Regions from separate parts of the Homo sapiens genome. Here region 2 is linked to region 1. A link means that fine-mapping ties the variant in region 1 to the expression of a gene that starts in the linked region. Tissue or cell type: amygdala. Region 1 holds a variant in brackets; the other region holds the start of a gene. All regions are shown on one strand. Distances are between the middles of the regions. Region 1 has its middle 5.5 kb from the start of RHOG. Region 2 holds the start of RRM1 (ribonucleotide reductase catalytic subunit M1).

The links. PIP is the estimated chance that this variant, and not a neighbour inherited with it, causes the effect. A credible set is the group of variants that fine-mapping cannot tell apart.
Region 2: RRM1 starts here. The variant in region 1 is the best candidate, but not a certain one, in a credible set for the expression of RRM1 in amygdala (GTEx, PIP 0.79).

The regions. Positions count from the first base shown.
Region 1 is chr11:3,844,972-3,847,879 of GRCh38, forward strand. No RefSeq gene overlaps it. Among named protein-coding and RNA genes, the nearest start is that of RHOG, 5.5 kb to the left of the region's middle. The variant A/C (reference allele first, on the strand shown) is at 1,418.
Region 2 is chr11:4,093,632-4,096,539 of GRCh38, forward strand. RRM1 (ribonucleotide reductase catalytic subunit M1) reads left to right here and starts at 1,168. Exons shown (of 19, transcript NM_001033.5): 1 at 1,168-1,400. The coding sequence starts at 1,382. RefSeq lists enhancers at 798-867, 928-1,397.

The DNA of each region.
Region 1 (2,908 bases):
TGAATAGGTGAGTTCTTGGTAGGTGGTGTGCATGTATGCTTACAAGCAGCTGAGAGACAAGGACATTGAACCTGGACATTTAGAAGTGAGATAATATGAAAGCACTTGGTGGGGTAGAATAGAGATCACAGACAGGTTTTGGAGACAGATTAGGATGGTTGTAACACAGTATGGCCTTTGATTAGTCATATGAGATCTCCCATATTCATAAATATTCAATGTATATTTATTGAAAATCTTCTTGGTGCCAGACATAGTGTTACATGCCAATCATGAAGTAGAGAAAACTGCCCTGATATAACTGGTAAGGGAGATAGACCTTAAACAGGTAATCATACAAAAGTAGAGTGCTGCTGGGCATGGTGGTGTTTGTCTCCAGTTCTAGTTCCTCAGGGGGATAAGGCAGGAAGATTGCTTGAGCCCAAGAGTTTCAGACCAGCCTGGGCAACATAGCAAGAACATTTCTCCAGAAAAAAAAGTACAGAATACTGTAAGAGCATATAACAGAGCCAACTTCTCAGTCTTAGTTTCATTTTAAAATGGGAATGGCTGGGCGTGGTGGCTCATGCCTCTATTCCTAGCACTTTGAGAGGCCAAGGTGGGACAATCACTTGAGCCCAGGAATTTGTAACCAGCCTAGGCAATCATAGCAAGACCCCATCTGCATACACACACAAAAATTAGCTGGGCATAGTGGCACATGCCTGTAGTCCCAGTTACTTGCTAGGCTGAGGTGGGAGGATCACTTGAGTCTAGGTGTTTGAGGTTGCAGAGAGCTATGATCATGCCACTGCACTACAGTCTGGGTGACAGAGTGAGATCCTGTCTCTAAAAACTAACAAATAAAAAACAATAAAATGGGACTGGCAAGTGCTGCATGAGATTGTGAGTATTAAACGACATAATGCATGTGGAGCCCTCGTAAATTGCCCTAGGGTACAGCAAATAAACATTAGTTAATTTCTCCACACTCCCTTGATGTTTTCAGGTATCCCCCCGCCCTTGGTTAATTCTTCCCTCTCTCTCAATGTCAAAATGCTAAAGCTGACTAGTTTCCCTGAGAGAGGAGGGGACAGAGAGTGAGAGGAGAAAGGCCCTGAACTGATCTCACCAGTGCCCTGAGGATTCCAAAGGGGTCTTCCCAGCCTATTCCTCACTGAACTCCAGCTCCAGGAGCTCACCAGTGATCCACAGGGGTCTTGGCTTAGCCCCAGTCCCAGCCCCTTTAGGTTACCCTTAAATCTGAATTCTCTTTTGCCTCTGCTGTGGCTCCAGGGGACTCAGCCTTCTTGGGGCTCCTCTTGATCCTTTGGTCTTCCCTCTCTCAGCCAGCCTCAGGAGTAGAACACAGTTTCCTCTTCATTATTTCTTTTTTTTTTTTGAGACAGAGTCACCCAGGCTGGAGTGCTGTGGCACG[A/C]TCTCTGCTCACTGCAACCTCTGCCTCCTAGATTCAAGCAATTCTCCTGCCTCAGCCTCCTGATTAGCTGGAATTACAGGCATGCACCACCACGCCCAGCTAACTTTTTCTATTTTTAGTAGAGACAGGGTTTCACCATGTTGGCCAGGCTGGTCTCGAACTCCCGACCTCAGGTGATCCGCCCACCTGGGCCTCCCAAAGTGCTGGGATTACAGGCGTGAGCCACCGTGCGTGGCCTTTATTTTATTTTTTATTTTTTGAGATGGAATTTTGGCCTGTAGCCCAGGTTGGAGTGCAATGGCACGATCTCAGCTCACTGCAGCCTCCACCTCCCGGGTTCCAACGATCCTCCTACCTCAACCTCCTAAGTAGCTGAGATTACAGTTGCCTGCCACCCGCCTGGCTACTTTTTTGTATTTTTAGTAGAGATGGGGTTTCACCATGTTGGCAAGGCTGGTCTTGAACTCCTAACCTCAAGTGATCCACCTGCTTCGGCCTCCCAAAGTGCTGGGATTACAGGCATGAGCCCCTGTGACTGGCCTCCTTTTCATTACTCCTCTTTATTGCTGCCCCCCAAAACAAGTCCAATATCCCATTTTGTGGGCTTTGATGGGCCAGACAGGAGACAGCAGAAAGAACTAAAAAGAGGTGACAAATTAAACAAAGTTCTAGAGTCACAACCTCTGATCTTTTTTCTTTTTTTATTTTTTTTCTTTTGTTTTGGAGATGGAGTCATGCTCTGTCGCCTAGGCTGGAGTGCAGTGGCGCAGTCTCGACTCACTGCAACCTCCACCTCCCAGGTTCAAGCCATTCTCCTGCCTCAGCCTCCCGAGTAGCTGGGACTACAGACGAGCACCACCACGACGGCTAATTTTTGTATTTTTAGTAGAGATGGGGTTTCACCATGTTGGCCAGGCTGGTCTTGAACTCTTGACCTCAAGTGATCTGCCTGCCTCAGCCTCCCAAAGTGCTGGGATTACAGGCGTGAGCCACCACATCTGGCCAATCTTTTGTTCTTGACTCTCTCAAGGAACTAAATGGATGAAGGGTGTGTGGACAATGGCCATGCCCTATTTTCCAAGAGGGTCCCTTCTCCCAGGCAGGCAGAACAATAGTTGTCCCGTTAGCCTCCAGGACAGCTTTGCATCTTTGACATTTTCTAAGCCCAGTGGTAGTACCCACATCATCTGGCATAATGCCCCTCTGGGAAAGTTCTCCTTCCTCAGTCCTGGTATTCTAAGAGCAACCCAACTATAGCTGCCCAGTTGATTCGGGATTCCCTGGGGAAATTTTCCCCAATTCTCATCTTTGCCATTTACTTGCTGTGTGATCCTGGAGAAGTTGCTGAATAATAATTTAGGAAAACAACTTAGATATGTTTTACATATGCTTTACACGTATTAACTCAATAAATATAACAAGTCTATAAGGCAGGTAATATTATTTCAATTTTACAGATAAGAATACTCACAGATAGGCCAGGTGAGGTGG
Region 2 (2,908 bases), 250 kb after region 1:
AAGCGATTCTTCTGCCTCAGCCTCCTGAGTAGCTGGGATTACAGGCGCGTGCTACCATGCCTGGCTACTTTTTGTATTTTTAGCAGCGGGGGGGTTTCACCACGTTGGTTAGGCTGGTCTCGAACTCCTGACCTCGTGATCTGCCCGCCTTGGCCTCCCATAGTGCTGGGATTACAGGAGTGAAGCACCGCGCTGGCCTACTTTTTCTATTTTTTGTAGAAATGGGGTCTCACTATGTTGCCCAGGCTTATCTCAACACCTGGCCTCACATGATGCTCCCGCCTTAGCCTCCCAAAATGCTGCAATTACAGGCTCACTTACGACTTTCCATGATTTTTGAAATTACTTCACAGGGAGCCTGGGCAGCTTCTGGAGGGCAGTGAGAAACCAACGAAAAGGCTTTAGGGAAAAGATGCCACAGATGAAATTTCATAAAGATCGCTTTGGGTAGCCCAAATCAGAAGCTTCTACACCAGCCTTACATATTACGGTTCTCATCTATTCTTATTCTCCACTCTAAGTCACCAAGTCCATCCTACCTCCACAAGGCAAATACCCTGTCTCTGCCACCATCCACTGAAGAACCCTAAAAGCAAATGGGTACTGACCCTGCCCTGCTTAAAATTCTCTCAGGGCTCTGATTTGCGTCAGGATAAAATCCAAACGCCATCGGCCTTGCGCGGTTTTCTTCCAGTTCCAGAGTGTCAGTCCTCTGGCCGATCTAAAAGCCCTGGGGCTCCAAGCTGCCCACGGCTGTGGAGCCTGGGCTGGAGCCCACAGCGGACGGCAGTGTTAGTATTATTATAATAAATGTCAGAGCAAGAAAAACGTTCCCGCCGGTTAGGTTTTGTTATTTCAAAAATAAATTAACCGCCTTTCCTCCGGCGGAGACGCGCAGGTGAGAGGGCGGCGCCTGACCCAGCGGGCTCTAGGTGCTACGCCAGGGCCCCGAGGGTCCCGAACTCGGCTTGCCCACACAAAACATGGTAGCAGGAGAGCAGCATTTCCGCCGGGCATGTCCATATCCAATGGGGCCCATGGGAGAGGCGTAGTCTTCTGGGTCTTGCCCAGACTCAACATGGCGGCTACACGTCGCCTGTCAGTCTGTGAAGCCTACCCCGGGCGTGGGCCGCAGCGTCGAGTAACGTCATTCGAACCCCGTCGCGCCCCTTTGTGCGTCACGGGTGGCGGGCGCGGGAAGGGGATTTGGATTGTTGCGCCTCTGCTCTGAAGAAAGTGCTGTCTGGCTCCAACTCCAGTTCTTTCCCCTGAGCAGCGCCTGGAACCTAACCCTTCCCACTCTGTCACCTTCTCGATCCCGCCGGCGCTTTAGAGCCGCAGTCCAGTCTTGGATCCTTCAGAGCCTCAGCCACTAGCTGCGATGCATGTGATCAAGCGAGGTGAGGGGGGGACGAGGTGGGCGAGAAGGAAGGTGAGGGGATGCGGGCTGCCGCCGCCGGAGCTGATGCCCAGACCGCCCGCCCGCCTTCGCTGCTTCCCGCCTTTCCCGCATTTCCCGCCGCGGCCTTCCGCCCTGTCAGCCCGCTCGGCCTTCTGTCTTCAGTCAGCCTGCCCCGAACCTCCTTCGGGCCTTCAGGCTGCGCCCCCTCGGCTTTGTCATCCTGCCGCCTTTCAAAAGGATAACACTTACCCCGTATCGAGTAGTGACTGCGTACGCCGAGCACTTGCCAGGCACTATTTTATTCCTCCCTGCAAGCCTCTGAGAGATGATTAGCTTATTACAGATGAGGAAACTGACGCTCAGAGCGAGGTGTCGCCGACTGACCCAAAGTCACCCATAGGTGACAATACGGTTTGATTTGAAAACCGTGGGGTTGGTGAGCTGTCTTAGGCACAGGGTCGGGGGGCAGCTAGGAAAGAAGGAGGGGGCCTCTCTACCCTCCGTAGGCACTTGTCAGTTTACTGATCTCTTTTGTGGGGTGAGGATAGGAGTGTGGCGTGGAAAAAACAGATCCCAGACAGACAGCACCCTCGAGTTCCTTTCCCTTCATGGGAAGAGATGCTGAATCAGAGAAGGGTGGCTGAGACATCTTCTGACAAGATGGGGACTGGGAAGAGTCAGGAACTCGTATTCTTTCTCAACAGTTCTTTTTCATTAGACTTGCCAAGTGCCCGCTTTGTGCCCAGCCCTTTGCTTGGCTTTGTGAGATTGTAGGAGGAGACAGTCCCTGCCTTGGGAACAGGCTTCATCGGGTTGGAAAAACAAGAGCAACATACTTTTAACAACCGCATGAGATACGTATGAACAAGTTTTGAGTTGAACCTACTTGCCTTTGTTAAAGCAATACAATGATTTCAAAATTGTAGGCACTTAGTAAATACTGGTTAATCGACTGGTTGTTTCTATTTTGTCCTCTAGGCTGTGAACATTTCAAAGATGGAGACTTGTTTGAGACAGAGTCTTGCTCTGTCACCCAGGATGGAATGCAGTGGTGTAATCATAGCTTACTGTAACCTTGAAGTCCTGGGCTCAAGCGATGCTCTTGCCTCAGCCTCTCAAGTAGCTGGGACTATAGGCATGCACCACCATGAGTGGCTAATTTTTAAAAATTTCTGGTAGTAAAGGAGTCTTGCTGTGTTTCCCAGTCTGGCCTTGAATTCCTGGCCTCAAACCATCCTCCCTTCCTTGGCTTCCCAAAGTGCTGGGAATACAAGCAAGATGGAGACTTTTCTGTTCACGTTTAGCACAGGACCTGACATGAACAGATTCTTAAAGAATGAATGAAAATAGTTGTATCAAAATGTAGGACACGATGAATGCTGTGAATAAGCAGGTAGTTGATTTGGTTTAACTACAGCCAATGTCCAGATTGGTTTAACTACAGACAAGAGTTGGAAAGGTGGACAGTAGTGGCCTTTCTTGTTTTTGGTATCTTGAGAACATCAT